Regions from separate parts of the Homo sapiens genome. Here region 1 is linked to region 2. The links come from fine-mapping of genetic effects on gene expression. Tissue or cell type: whole blood. Region 2 holds a variant in brackets; the other region holds the start of a gene. All regions are shown on one strand. Distances are between the middles of the regions.

Region 1 (8,109 bases), 110 kb after region 2:
GAGGTCACCTCGAAATGATGCAAATTATATTAGCTTCTAAACAATTTTACACTGAATTGAGTTCGGTACATCATGGGTTTTTTTGTTTGTCTGAGACAAAGTCTCGCTCTGTCACCCAGGCTGGTAAATAGTGGTTTAAATACTTGTTCTTCTTAAGACTACAGGTTCAGATGCCAGCATAGATCATTTACATTTGCCTACAAAGACTGGTAAGCTATCGCATGCCACACAGCTTAGTGTAACAGGTTGAGATCCAGTCTACAAAAAGTGATACTTATTTTTAAAGTAAAAACATAAGGCTTTTAATCAAACAAATTCATAGTTAGTTGTTCTCTAAGCCATCTTGGTATTCCAGGCACAGTCATATCTGGAGAGACAACTGCTAAATAGCCAGAGCCCTGAAATGTTCACCCTACTCAATGCCTGGTTTTCTTTTCTCCCTTTACCTGATAATGAGCCTGGGCTTGCTGTGCAGAGTTCAAGGTGACATTGCAGAGTTTGCAGTACAGGGGCTTACATAGCTCCTCCAGGGCACAGTCTTGCTCCCCTCCCTTCGATAACTCTTCTTCCCCTGCAAGAGGCAAGGAAGCCTCCTGCCCAAAAGGCTTCTGTGGTGGAAGCTGCAAGGTTCCTGTAGACCTGGTGGCCACTGACATAGGAGGCGAGGGTGAGGGCTGCTTAGGTGGAGGAAGCACGGCGTGTTGCAAGAGGATCATTGGGTAGGGAAGCCTGGGGCATAATCCAGTGGGTGATGAGAAGCAAGGTCTTCAAATCTGAATCAACAGCAAAAAAACAGAAAAAAAAACTCACTTGAAAATCAGACTTCAGCAAGATAACATGTAAATGACAACATAATCTGACCCTTTCTTCTACTTCTCCAAACCCATCTTTGGGACTTCTTTCCTTTGGCCTCATTTAGCAGACTTCCCCTGCCTGTTAATTCATGTTAACACGGTGCTCTTCCACTGAGAATGGCTTTATAGATTTGGCTTTATTTTGCTTGGCACAGTTCCAACTGCTATCCCTTTGGCCCGTGAACATTAACAGCATTGCATCCACGGCTAAATCTAAAAGTCACATGGCTGAAATGGACATCAAATGTCACCTAGTCCAGACCCCTTCCCTCAGGCACACTTACACTTAAACACTCTTAATGATAATCATGCACAGACAAAAACACCACGAGCTGTCCAGGTGTGGTGGCTCACGCCTGTAATCCCAGCATTTTGGGAGGCCAAGGTGGGCAGATCACCTGAGGTCAGGAGTTCGAGACCAGCCTGTTCAAGACAACATGGTGAAACCCCGTCTCTACTAAAAATACAAAAATTAGCCAGGTGTGGTGGCGAGTGCCTGTAATCCCAGCTACTCAGGAGGCTGAGGCAGGAGAATCGCTTGAACCGGGGAGGCAGAGGTGGTCGTGAGCCGAGATCGTGCCATTGCACTCCAGCCTGGGTGACAGAGCAAGACTGTGACTCAAAAAAAAAAAAGACCACCAGCTAAAAATCTTAGCAAACATATCTTCCAACCAACCAATATCAAAAAGAGTGTATAAAAGAATATCATCTTGCAGAATTCTTAAAGCACTTATAGAACTAGCTAAAATTTCAGGGAACTCTAGGAGTAGCCTAAAGTATGACAGAAATAAATAAAATATGTTCCTTCTGATCAACTAGCAATATTTAAGTAGTTGAGCAAATGTATAGCAGAGGTGGCAAACAGCCTGTGGGCCACATACAGCCACAGATGTGCTGTTTGGAATATACAGTTTTGTTTTCATTTTTTTAAGTCGAATTAGTTGTTAGCATTTAAAAATCAAGAGATTCATGGCTTCTCTTGAAAAAGGATGATCTGGCATCACTTGGCCCACATTCCTATATGGGACGCAATTAGCTAGTTAGTGCTCAGAGGCACTGTGCCCTCTAGCGAGGCCTGCCTTCTCTGGGACACCTCAGTCCCCACTCAGCTGCTGCCTGTACTTGTTACTTGCCTGTTCTCTGTGAGCTCTTGAGTTTACAGCCCTGCCTCATACAGCCTTAGATTATATTCATCAGCCCCTGTAAAACCCAAATTTTTCCTCCTTCTCTAGGTAAATTACCTACACAAAATAAGGTATCAAGGAAATGTCCAATGGAGTAATGGATCACACCACCATAAGCCACAGTATAATTCCAGTTCCTCAATCTTGAGGCTATTTCCCTCCTCCTTCTTAACAAATAACTGATAGTCTCTATTATAATTCCCTCAGAAAAGACCCAAAATGTTCCTCTCCCTCTTCAATCTTTATCCATAATGTCTCCTGCCTCCCCCCCAGATGGCGCCGTCTAACCCTGAGTGTCTCAAAATGAACCACAGTACACCCTTTGAGTTCCCAAGATTCTAATTAACCCAAATTAGAATCCTTATTTCAAAATCCACAATTCCCTCCACTCTCTCAATACAGTATTATTAAAACCTCTTCTCTTGGTCAATAGAATATGGCTATTTTAAGCTGCTGAAATTTTCCATCTGCAATGGAAATGTGTACATTATGGCAATAATAGAATTACTAAAATGAATCAAGTAAATTTTGAAAAGTTAAAGTCTATTTTACCATATTTGATAACTACACAGCACCTGAAAATCAAGTAACAACTTTCAGACGAAATTTGGGGTGGGGAGGCAACAAAGGAAATCAGCGTGATGGGAAAATAATGTAGTTAAGGACAAAGTGCATAAGTATTAGTCATAGAATTTAACAATACTTCTCATTAATCACAAAATTTAGAAAAATGATAATATTATTTAATTTTTAAGCAGAAGTGTACTGCCCATATCTCTGGGAACATAAAAGAAAAGCAATATAGAGTTTTAACATTTAAAAAGTCAGGTTCTCTGTAATGGTATTATTTCTCTTAATTGAATCAAGCAAAGATAGTCCAGAAAGCAAAGACAGATATGGTCATTTTAGAAAACGGAACTAAGTAGACAAAGAACAGCTTTTAAAAAGTTTAACTACCTAATAATAATAATTCATAATGTTGAAAAGCTACTGATGTCAAATTGCCACAAACATTCTGCTAGTTCATTAGTGAAAAGGTGGGGGGGGGTGTCAAAACCTCTGGATAAAGGAAATCAGCAATATAAACAGAAAATCAAATGCTACCAATTGCCTAGGCATGTCTGGACTTGTTTTATGAAAGCTCACTTTCACTTGAGGAAATTCTAGCATGTGTCTCCCCCAGTGTTATCTACAGGTTTCCCTCAAAATAAAGATCCTTCTCAAAGAACAGAGGCACAAAAGGCCTCCTACCAGAGGTGACAGTTACCTGATTTAAAGAAAAAATTCTTGCCAAACACAGATTTACCCATTATCACATTTGATCTTTACAATTTTTAAAGAGTAGCTTGATATCCCAAATTTATTTCTTGTTATATTTAACAATCAACACAATGTCGACTCCTCAAAAAAATCTATGTATGACAATTGCATCAAATATTAGTACATTTGCAAACAAAAATTAGTATAAAATATAAATCTTAAAATGAATAAAACCAAGTCTTCAGTGAATGCATGAATGATGGAATACAGAGACCCAAAACATGCAACTCAGATCTGTTCAACTGTTGCATTGGTTTAAAAGGGACTAATTTGAAGACTGGCATAAATATTCTTCAAATCTTAAAAACCAGTCACTTTGATGCTTGCGATGGCATAAATGAAGGATTTATGCTGGTTAATGTCCTGGTTTGGAAAGGAGCTAAGACGACATTAAAGAAAATCAAAGCTTCACAAGGTACCCTGTTTAAAGAAAATTAATTGTCATAGCATACTTAGTTTTAATGATTGGACTGGGGCCTACTCTTCACATACTGTGTTAAAGACAATCTCTTGTCTCATTTGGAGAAATCTACAGAGGAAAGAGAATAGAATAAAGGAACAGGTTAGGAGCACCTCAGCAAACTAGGTAAGTCTGTAATTGGGAATTCTGGAAATGAGGGAAAGGCAGCGAGCATTACTCAGAGGTCATCAGAACGCAGCAAGAAGGAATGAGAGGGAGAAAAGTTAAAAAAAATAATAATAATAATCACTTGAGGCAAGGTGTATCCTATAAAGAAGGCTCAAAAGAACGCAGAAAACTGGGGAAGAGGCCTTGGTGAATTGGCGAATGTTTTTCAGTCTCCGCTGTGACGGTTCCTAATCCTAGAGAACTGTTTACAGATTTGAATCAAAGCTACAGACAGTTCAGCGTCGCCCACATCCACCTTACATTCCTAAGATGTGCATGCATACACACGAACCCACACACGCACCTCAACCCGGTATGGATGCCATCACGAAGGATGGAATCCCCCGACTCCCACGGGGCGGGGGCAACTGAGAGGGCCAAGGCAGCTGCACGCACAGATGATCCACCTGGTCCACGTGAAATGCCTGAAACAAGCAAACTGATAAATAGAAGCAGCGCAAGCCCTGTCACGTGGAGGGCAGATGGAAAGAGCATCGGAAAGGAACCGCTAGTCCCCGGCGCTCCAGGGGCTCGTCCTGAAAGCTCCGCGGCTCCCAATCGCCCGCACTTACCGGAACCCCCGGGACGCGCCGGCAGTCTCCGCGCCGCGTCCGCCCGGGACGCCCGCGACGCCCGCCCTGCGCGCCCGGCTCGGCCCAGCTCGACCCAGCCTCTTCTCGGAGCAACTTTCTCCGCCGGCCGCCGCCGAGCCCCCTCCGCAGCCGAAGGCTGACTGTCAAAAGTCAGTCCAACCCGACCCACAGGGAAACAGCTGCAGGAAGTGACTGCGGAACCGGGAGGCGGTGGAGGAGGAGACTGAGGGCGCCGGCTCGGCGTCGCCACTGCGCATGTGCTTGGCGGAGCAGGCCCGGCAGCGGTGGCAGCGGTAGCAGTGGCGGCTCCCGCATCCCCGGCGGGCGGCGCGTGGGTCAGGTGCCCTGGCCGCGAGCGCAGGGGCGCGGGGTTAGGCCGGCGTGGGGAACAAAGGCACGAGTGAGAGGCGGGAGGGTCCCGCCGCCAATCTCAGCAGACAGCCCCGAAGAGCAGTTCAGCAGATGCCCTGGAAAGTTAATCCTTGGTAGAAGCCTGGGCAGAGCTTTTGCAACTTTCATCTCCAGTCATTGGGATCCAAACATTGTTCATTCTGTTCCTCCCTTAGCCTGCTGGTTGGCGGTTAAGGCGGCTGAGTGGATCCTTTAAACTGCTGCAACAGAACCTTTAAACTGCTGCTCTCCCCACTTCCGCCCCAGGATGGAGGAAGAAGAGCGTGGCTGCCTGCCCAGTATCGGCCTCCCTCACACAAAACGCCCCCACCCACCCACACACACACCTTCCCTCCCCTACACGAAAGTGAGCAGGAGATAGAGGAGACTTTCTCCTGACCCCCAGAGGCTCACCTGCAAGACAGGAAGGACCAGGAAAAGAGTGGCCAACGCTAGGATGTCACATCCTTCATAACCAACCTGGACATCTTCAATGTTAACACTGAGTGATGAGCTGAGGAAATTCCGGCTCTAAACTTATAGCGTAAATTAACTCGTATGAAGATCTGCTGGGGTATTATTTTTGTGTGTGGCAAACGATAACAAATATACTACTTTAAGAGTACAGGCCGGGCGCGGTGGCTCACGCCTGTAATCCCAACACTTTGGGAGGCCGAGGCGGGTGGATCACGGGGTCAGGAGATCGAGACCATCCTGGCTAACACGGTGAAACCCAATCTCTACTAAAAATACAAAAATATTAGCCAGGCGTGGTGGTGGGCGCCTGTAGTCCCAGCTACTCGGGAGGCTGAGGCAGGAGAATGGCGTGAACCCGGGAGGCGGAGCTTGCAGTGAGCCGAGATCGCGCCGCTGCACTCCAGCCTGGGTGACAGAGCGAGACTCCGTCTCAAAAAAAAAAAAAAAAAAAGTACAGTTCAGTGGCATTAAGTACATTTGCATTATTGTGTGGTTATTTTTTAAAACACGAATTAAAATGCCAAGGAGATCTAAGTATAGTAAGATGTGCCCTATTAGTAGGGAAACAACTGCAGGAAATCAAGGCTGTTTCTTTGGCTGAAAAATGCACCAATCCAATACCAACAACAACAAACCATAAAAGACTTCATAAGTACAATGAATATGAAGTACAAACATATACACACAGTGTACACCAGCCATTTGGGGAGAGTAATCCATCACCTGAATTGTTTTTCCAGCTGTATAGGTACATTTACTTTATGTGTCACTATTTTAAAGGGCTATATTGTTTCTAAAATAATAAATGCTGCTAAAATCCACTCTCCAGCCCCTTTTCTATATGGTCTTTAGCCAGTCTTAGAACTTCACAGTCCACACTCCTTATCTAGGACCACAAGTAGGCCTTGCGGAGCCTTTCCGATCTGACCTTCCACCAGTCTCCCCTCATCATTTCACTCACACCCCCATCCATGCCCCTTCATTTCCTGCCTCTGTAATTTAGCTCTGTCTGCATCTTGAATACAAAATGCTTTCTCTCCCCTCCCCTTGAATTGTCAAATCCTACCTGTCCTTCCAGGCCTCTTCTTTCATGAGGTCCCACAGCACTTTTCTCCGCACACCTTGATGACACACTATTTGTTGTCCCACATTATAATTACTTAAGAGATATTTCCTCTGCCCTGTAAATACCTTGAGTCCAGGAAGGATAAATGTCTTGGAGTTTTCAAGTTTTATGTTTGATAGTTTGATGTGTTCTTGTCCATCAGGATGAAAATCTGAACAATTCCATGTTCTCTGCTCACATACTCTTCTCAGACAGCTAGGGCATTTCCTTCCCTGCCTCGGGGAGAAAGAAAAGGCAAATCTGATGCTTGTGTAATAGATATTTGAAGCTCATGGCAGTGACAGTAGTCTCATAAGTCAGAGTTTGTAGTTTAGAATTGGCTGGACTTCATGAGTTTCAGCACATGAGGTGAAAGGAAAAAAAGCCACAAACAATATATTCATCACTTTTGCGGTTGAAAAAAAAAAAAATGGCTGATGGCCACAAAGGTTTATTTCTTATTTGTATTACATGCTGGGTCAGCTGAGGTTCTGCTCCATGGGTCTCCTCAATCCAGTGCCCAAGCTGAAGAAGCTGCCCCTATGTAGAACTTGGCAATTCTCAAGGGAGATGGGAAGAGCCAGAAAGCTGTTAGAAACTTGTGAAGCCTCTTAAAGCTGCTTCTCTAATGTCTCATGACATGTCTACTCAAATCCCATTGGCCAAGGTCTTTCATATGGCCAAACCCCAAGTAAGTGGAGAAGTCTACTTCTTTCATAGGCAAATCACATGGCAATGGGCATGGATTGTAATTTTTTTGGAGTGGGGGTTGTGTGGTTAATTGTAAACAATAATGCAATCTGCCACAAAGATGGGGGAACCAATTTTCTCTCCCCAGAGATATTGGTGTATGTCCCAAAGAAAGGCCTATAAATCCCCACCCACCCACCAGCCACACACACCCAGTCGTTGGGATTCCTTTGAAAGAAACTGTGGAGCTAGAAATAATACAATTCCCACATGTGTGAAGATCTAGAGATTGGGGGCATCTGAGCTCTATTCCCAGTGGGGATCAGAAAAGCAATCAAGGTCTAGGGTTTTGCCTCAATAAGTCAAAAGAGAGTAGGATGTTAGCCTGAACTGTTTCAGCCAGAGGAATGCCCCTAAACTTTTTTTTTTTTTTTTTTTAGTATTTATGGCATTAGAGACTATTCAAGGGAGCTGACAGCTGTAGGGGGCTGATGAGCCTACAGGTCGGAAAGGGGAAGGATAGAACTGAATGAACAGAGCACTGATCTGATAGCAGAGAAAAAATAGACATCGCCTATTGAGGTCAAAGCCAAGGCGTGTTTGCACTGATGTCTACTTCCTCTTGCCACCTGCCTCCCCACTTCACCCAACCCCACCCCAAATTTTAGGGTTATCCTCAGAAAAATAAGGGGAAGCAGATCATTTTGAAGTGAATAGATATTAGCCAGAAATGACTTGGAGACAGGAGAGATTTGTGGGTAATAGAAATACATGTAGAATTGACTAATTTGTTTCTCTCTTGAAAAAGAACAGGATCTCAACATTGAGACTAATTTTAATTACTTTTTTAAAAGCAACGTTTTTATAC
Region 2 (8,109 bases):
TAATTCTGTGAAGAATGATGATGGTATTCTGATGGGGGTTGCATTGAATTTGCACATTGCTTTTGGCAGTATGGTCATTTTCACAATATTGATTCTACCCATCCATGAGCATGGGATGTGAAGAACTCCCTTTTAAATGCTAATTTTATTCATGCAGTTGTTTTATGAATATAAAGATTTCAATTTTTCATGTGCAATACCCTTAAAGAGTGAAATCCTTTGAATTATTTTTTCAAAAACAGGCAGCACAGTTCTGATACAGAGGGAGTTTAGCATCTCAAAACACCTTATATTTTCCTTTTTACCAATTCATACATTTCCATTCCTGACGAGATTTATTGCTGTCAATTGCGGTTGCCTATAGCTTTCCACTGCTTTTGTTCCTGGAGGGTTAATTTCTAACACTTGGATTTCTTGGCATGCTTTCCTTTCTTTTTTTCCCCAAATACCCAAGCCCTATAACCCTTAATTTTGCTAGTTGATTTTGTGCCCAGTCACTATTTATAGATGGAGATAATCCCAGATTCGGACAGCTGGTCTGGCCATAGTTCTGAGATCTGTGATCCCATTTAGTTTCACCACACATGACCCTAGGCCACAAACATGTTGAGGTCATGTATATAAACAAATAAGTTTAACAAAAAGGAAACACGTGCAAAAATGTGGATCCTATACTATAGAGTTTGCATACCATGCTTTAAGGGAAAGGGAACTTACAATACAGCTAAGAATACCTAAGAATACATCTTTTTATGCAGGAATGAAGCTTCCCCTCTATGCAGATAGGCTCCTAGCATCCTGTGAGCAGACCACGCTCATTTCCTGTTGTATCCTTCACCTACAGCATTTTCCTTGAACCTCTCCACGAGCTTAAGTATACATGTTTCTCAAAAAAACAGTCTAAATTCTGCCTTTTCCCTGAGGGATGTACAGATGTGTGACTAAAAATGAAAAAGAAGACTACAAATCTTAAAAACAGTCATAAATAATTATCATAGATAACCATTGCTACCAAGTACCAGACTTACTCCTCCAAACAACCATATAAGCATGGATTGAGGATACCTGCTGTGTTATAGGTATCATTACCATTAAGGTAAACATCATATAATCTCAGCCCTCAGAGAATTTGTTCAGTCTGATAGAATCAAAGATAAGCAAAAATAATTAACACAGGGCCTAAGTGTAGAGATAAAGGGAAAGTTTGCCTAGAGAACAAAAGTTTTTTACAGACTGGATTCAGGAGAAGGCTCCTTCAAGGAAGCCCATTCTACAGATAAGAAAACTGAGGTTCACAGAGGTTAAATGTTTATGACCACAAACTAATAAGTTGTGGAGCCAGAAATCAGAAATAGGTCTCTTAGCCCAACATTCCCACAGGCTTTCACTTATGGGAAGTTGACCTAATTATCAACCTAATTAACACACCAAATGTGTTAATTTCCTAAGGCTGCAGAACAAGTTACCACAAATTTGGTGGCTTATAGCAACAGAAATGAATTCTCTCACAGTTGTGAGGACCAGAAGTCTGAAATCACAGTGTCAGCAGAGTTGGTTTCTTCTGGAGGTTTAGAGGGAGAATCTGTCCCACGCCTCTCTCCTAGCTTCTTGTGGGTGCCAGCAATTCTTGATGGTGATGCATCATTCCAGTCTCTGCTTCCATCTTCACATGGCCTTCAACTCCATGTTTATCCTCTTTGTGTGTCTTGAATCTCTCTTTCCGTTCTCCTATGAGGACAACAGTCATTGGATTTAGGGTGATTTAGAATGAACTTATCTCAAAAATCTTAATTACAACTGCAAAGACTCTATTTCCAAATAAGGTAACATTCACTGGTACCAGGGGTTAGGACCTGAACTTATCTTTGCAGGGGACAATATTCAACCCAGTATACCAAGCACATTGTTTACAAGCCTATTCCAGCTTTTACTTCCCCCTGGACCTTTCTGGCTGAAGCCCTCATGTTCAGCCAAGGATTTGTGGATAACTCCTGAGAATGTGCACAGCCTTGGGCAGCCTTCCAAATCATCATGGATAAGTAAGAGTTTACCAAGTCCCACTATGGCTATCTCTCTGTTAAATTTCTCACTGGTTTGCTGACTTCTTGCTGGTATTCTGCTTCTTACCAAAACCAGGATCATAATGTTGGGCTAGCTGCAACATTTGTTTGCCAACCATATGTGATAACAAACACCCGAGGGTGTGGGGTTTTCTGCTCCCCTCTCCAAACCAAGTCAGCCCCCGCCAGCAGCTAAATTCATCTTAGCTGAGTAGGAATTGCCCTATTCTGTCCAAGCTATCACATGATGGGACTGTGGGAGGTAGAAGGGAAGCAGCCCAGGTTAATACAGCACAGACTCTCATTGTTTGTACCCAGAGTTTAGTAGATCTTCTTAAATAAACACTAATCAATTTTCTGAATGTCCTTGGTCAATTCTGAGATTTCTCAAGTGGTTGATTTTTAGAGTCTTGTTTAGTGTTATTATTATTTTGAGAGGAAGAGGATTTGCTATATTCTTCACTCTACCATTCTGAAAGTCCCAATTTCTAGACACTAACTAAAAAAGAGCCATTGCCCCATTGCAACTTGCAGCTGGACTGTCATCAGTGAAAGGAGAGAGGCAGGGAAGTCTCCAGAAATGTTCATTCTACACAGGTAGGATGGGACTACATGGAGCAGAAATTTACAACAAATTAGTTTCTTCTTCCCTTTAAGCATATTTGTTGTCTACATTTTCTCAAAGTCTCATAGTAAAAGAGAAAAGTAGAATTGCCTAAACCTGTATTTTTACAGAATAAAGGAAGAGTTCAAAATTCTAGATAAAATAACCCATCCATCAAGATGCAAATTGCTACAATTGAAGATTACCCTGTACACACAGAGAAAAAGGCTCACCTATTATGATTGTCCATAGATTATATCAATTCATTTTAAATATTTAGGAAGTTCTTTTTTTACTTTATAAATCTATAAGCCCATTATTATCAGTTTCCAGACCTTTTACTTCTCTGACTTGAAAACCACTGCTACTTATAATACAATCCAGTTAAAGGATGATAAATGTAATCTTTCACTATTGACTTCAGGCTATTGTGGTACAAAATAACTCTATCTATTTTCCCATCTATTCTTTCACCTGCACATGCCCACGAACACAATTACAAGATAGATACCCTTTCTTCCAGAGGCTACAAACCAGTAACCTCTGGCTGAAAAATAGGCTTTATTTAGCTCTCATTGTACCTTTTAAAACACTGAGCTGACAAAATCTACATATTTTACACAAAAATATGAGTACCTGCCTTTTCTTGAGAAAGAATCTGGTGATAGTTCATAATGACTTTTCTTTTCAGACAGTGCAAGTAATTTCCAATATTTTACAGTCCCCCTGCCTCTATTGTCTTCCTAATGCTGACGATGAATGTCAGCTATCATCAATTATTTCATTTGTATTATTTTTCTTTTTGTGGTAGGAAAATATTTTTCTGTAAAAATGTCTTTATGTTAAATACATTTTGAATTAAAAATTGAAAGGAAAAGTAGAAACTAAGATTATCCTTTTGATTATCCTTCACCCAGTCTTCTGTACTCATTAACACTACTTGCCGGTACCCC[C/T]ATAGGCATTTGAGTTTGTTGTGTCTGTTTTCATCCTTAGATTAGAACCGAATAATCTCTTGATATAAAAATAATTCAAGACTGCAAGGTTCTTGCTTATCAGATTGGCCTAGTCCAGAGATGATCAAGAAGCTGGCCAAAGGTCAATTGATTACCTACTATAGTGGGGAGGTGCTCAGATTCTTCTAGAGTCAGATTATTCAAGTTCAAATCCTCACTTTGCCACTGTTAGGGTTCAAAAAGCGATGCCCCAAAATATGGTGGTTTGACATGCTGGCCGGGAGAAGCAGCCTTAAGTTCTCTCTAACCTTCTACCTCCAGCCCCCTCCCTCTGACCCCTGCCTCCTTAGGCCTCTGATCCTCTTTCCCAAAGAACTAAGAGGGACCCTCTTTGGAATTTCTTTATCTGACTAACAAATTTTCCTTCTTAAGACAATGCAATTTTCTTAAGACCTCTTACCTAGGAATCTCATCAAATAACCAGGAAAGATTAACCACTGGAGAAGAGACGGGGTCATGATTACAACCAGACAGACTTTTCATATATTATTTTGAGGACAGCTCTGAGAGACTACCTGGGGACTTTATCTTCATAATAAGACAACCTTTGTTCTTGTGAAGTTCTGCCCCTCTCCGTCCTGGAACCTTGTCATCCAGCTTCCAAAGAGAATCATTTACAAAATAATGTCTGCCTTCTATGTCCATACATCTCTCCTCTATGAAGACAACATTTAAAAATCAAACATCTGACTCCTCCTTAAGTCTCATATTTTGTGTGTAGCTTCTGTGTTTATGCATGTTGAATACATTTTATATGCCTTTTTCTTCTATTAATCTGCCTTTTATCAGCTCATTTTCAGCAAATCCTCAGTGGACAGAGATGAAGCGTTCCCTTCACTCCTACACTACCTACGGATTTTGTGATCTTTGGTAAATTACTTAATGTCTCTGAGATTCTATTGTTCTATCTATAAAAGGCAGATAATAATAGTATCCACATTATAGGGTCGTTTGAGAGTGAAATTAAGTGCCCAGAATAGTGCTTGTGTGATATAATAAGAAATATATTTGGTCTTTGTTCCTAGTTTTTGTTGCAGGGCTTCTGAAATTTTTGGAAGTCCTGAGTGATAGGAACGTCTTTCATTATTCATAATGATCCCCTTTATAATAACACGTGAGTTCATGCTAATGAGGTGAGTTAGATAACCCTAGATAACCTCAGGATGGGGCCAGTCCCCAGAAAGACCAAGTGATTAAGGGATTAGAGGGTTGGAACTTTCAGCCTTGTTGACCAACCTCCAGGAAATGGAGTGGGGTCTAGAGATTAAGCTCTCCAAAGCTGTCGAACAAGATTTGACAAGCTTCACAGTTGCTGAATGTGTAGAGGAGCTGGGAGGATGGGATGCCCCTCACGTCTCTACTCAGCCTGTGCATCTCTTCCATCTGGCTGTCCTTGAGTGCTGCCCTTTATAATAAATGGGTAATTGTAAGCAAAGTGTTTCCCTGAGTTCTGTGAGCCATTCTAGCAAATTACTGAACCTGAGAGGGGGTCATGGGAACCTCCAATTTATTGCTGGTCAGTCAGAAATATGGGGGGCCCAGACTTGAGATTGGCGTCTGAAATGAGAGCAGTCGTATGGGACTGAGCCTTCAACTTGTAAGGGCTATTCAGGTAGACAGTGTCAAAATCGAATTGAATTGTGGAAGACCCAGTTGATATCTGCTGGAGAGCTGCTTGAAATATGTGTAAAGACCCGTACACATCTGGCCACAAAAATATTCTGTGCTGAGAGTATAGTAGGACAGAACAGTCTGTTGGTTTGTGTGTTTCCCAGTCTTGTAAGTAGTAAACACTATATACATGTTTGCTATTATTATTATAAGAAAGCAACTGCCCCCTAGAAACACTCCTGTATGGTACAGTGTTAATGAAATTGACAACTGTCCTTTGTGAAAATAGTCTATCCCCAGAATACATATGTCATGCCATACCTTTATTGACTCCAATAGGGATGACACTGTGTCCAAGGGCTGAAGAAGAGACCTGGAGACGTGAACAAGACATAATGCTTATCAGGGGAACTTACATACAAAGACAACTTGGAAAAGAAACAACATGCATTTTGCTGCTTTTAAACTGTTCACTTAGAGAATAAAACTATCTACCAAAGTATAAAACACAAAACAACACAGAAGCCAGGTATGGTGGCATGTGCTTATAGTCTCAGCTATTCAGGAGGCTAAGGAGGGAGGCTCACTTCAAACCAAGAGTTCAAGGCTGCAGTGAGCGATGAACTCACCTGTGAATAGTCAGTGTACTCCAGCCTGGGCAACATAGTGAGACCCTCAACTCTTAAAAAAAAAAAGCAACTCATATGTGTGAGCAGAGCAATATAAGGATTCCATAAATGTATGAATCAGTGCAAATTTTCAACCAAGCATGACTCAGAGAAAAGAATATAGACTAAAAGAATGTAAAGGTAAAAGACCGGTCTATTACTTCTGAATTCTCATGCTCACTGCTCGTGTAACCCAGGACAAATCAGTGCTACCCTCTAGGACCAGTAATTAAAGTGATTAGGTTAGACTGAAAAGTTTCCTTTTGACTCTGTCTAAAACTTAATACAAAGAATATCAAAGACAATCAAAAGGTTTGTTGCTACATTCCATAACAGTTATGGTTTAAATTATTAGAAAAGTCCTAAGGTTTTTATTCTAATAGTATTTATTATGACAGAATATAGAGTAAAATCTCAATTAGCATAAGGTAGAATTAAACATGGAAACTTCCTGGAGTTTTAACCCAGGAAAGGGTAGATAATTTGATTAAAACTCCAAACTTCCTCTAGAAAAATACACAAACACATTTTGCATAAAATTTAAAAGATTCACTGATGCTTAGAAAGATTTAATTCTGAGAAAAACTGGGATTCAAACATGAGGAGAAGAAGAAAGGAGGAGTTACCCTAATTAACTGGTTACCTAGCCAATAGAAAAGAAGGATATCCAGGCGGCTCTTGGTTTAAAATCTAAATGCATTGTATTTGACAGCCACTTTATAATAGAATTAAACTTTTTATGGCTAGTCTCCAACTTAAACTCTGAGGTCTCTTGAAACTAGAAAGTGAATACAGCTTTTCTACTCATAGTTAAGCTTTTAAAAATATTAACAGAATCTTTTCATTCATTCATTAGGAAAAGGAAGTGGTTTTTCATTTTCATTCGCAAGCCAGTTTCCTGTTCACGCTTAAAAAAATAAATAAATAAATTTGGCATAAGGAATGATGAGGTGCCCTCTTCTGTTTCTAAACAGTTAATGCAGGGTTTTTGAATACTAGCAATTTGAAGGATTTTGCATTAAACTTTGAACACAGCAAGATTTTAAAATCTGAAAGAATTTCTGTTGACCTCCAGTGATTGGAATACCTCTTTATGCAGCAGAAGTTCCTCTTTGCCAATTAAAAAGTCCTCATTTCTCTCTGTGTAATAGCACACCCTGTTCCTGGCTGAGAAGAAAACAAAATTAACCTTGGGCTGGCGGCTGTGCTGCCTGATTTCCCTGGGCGAGTGAATGAGCTCACCAAATGTATAAATAATGTGCCCAAGTCTCCTTGTTGCTCAGTTTTTTCATATTCATTGAACAGAAGCCTTGAGCGCAATTCCAAACTGCTAATGTGTTAATACTTTCACCAGAGCTTGACTCCAGTTGCTGAAAAAACAAATATAAAACAGTAAACCCAGAAGGATGACCCAAACTTCCTGTTCTTTATTGGCAGAATTTTGCTGTGCAACTTACAAAGTTTGACAAATTATGCAAAGAAGCAAATGTAAAAGGACAGCTCTGAGATCCAAATTGAGGTGCTGTAGCACAGTTGCTTTAGTGGAACTACCACTGGGCTGCTGCCAGTCGCATCTGGGCAGGAAGGAAATGCAAATTAAAAGGAAAAATTAGGCCATTTTAGAGCAAAGTGAATTTTCAGCAAAAGCTCAGTGCTAACACTGAAAAATAAAGAAGGTATTATTCAGTTTTAAATCAGATTGATTAATTCTTTCTCTTGGTTATTCCAAAGTGCTTCTTTCGCTCTTCCCCGAGACACTGAGGTGTTTTGATAACGACTCATTATTTCTGTAGCACCAGTTCTTATCTTTGTTACTTCATTCAACCTCTTTTCATCTCATTCAACCACAGAAAGTGATTTTGACCTTTTACAAGACCCATAACCTTTACTGAAATCAAAGCTAATTGCTTTTCTTTTTAAATGTCTTTTAATCACCTTCAAAACTAAACAAATAACTTCAATCTAGAAAAATCAGACCTTGGAATCAGAATGAATGTTAGACATCCCTCTACTGCTTAGCAGTCCTGTGAACCTGAGATTCCTCAGCTATTAGGTCCAGAAATACCTGTCTCATTTATGTCACCAAATAGTTGTTAGGATAAAATGAGATTACATATGGAAATATACTTTAATAGCATTTATTGAGTACTTAA

What was found. PIP is the estimated chance that this variant, and not a neighbour inherited with it, causes the effect.
Region 1: it holds the start of ZMAT3, and the variant in region 2 is fine-mapped to the expression of ZMAT3 in whole blood (INTERVAL, PIP above 0.99). The same link has a PIP of 0.9 or more in monocytes.

The regions. Positions count from the first base shown.
Region 1 is chr3:179,067,037-179,075,145 of GRCh38, forward strand. ZMAT3 (zinc finger matrin-type 3) reads right to left here and starts at 4,773. Exons shown (of 6, transcript NM_022470.4): 1 at 4,559-4,773; 2 at 447-773. The coding sequence starts at 716. RefSeq lists silencers at 4,500-4,649, 4,790-5,199.
Region 2 is chr3:178,959,836-178,967,944 of GRCh38, forward strand. LOC124906307 (a long non-coding RNA gene) reads right to left here. Exons shown (of 3, transcript XR_007096179.1): 2 at 5,610-5,661; 3 at 127-1,728. Among named protein-coding and RNA genes, the nearest start is that of KCNMB2-AS1, 100 kb to the left of the region's middle. The variant C/T (reference allele first, on the strand shown) is at 3,618.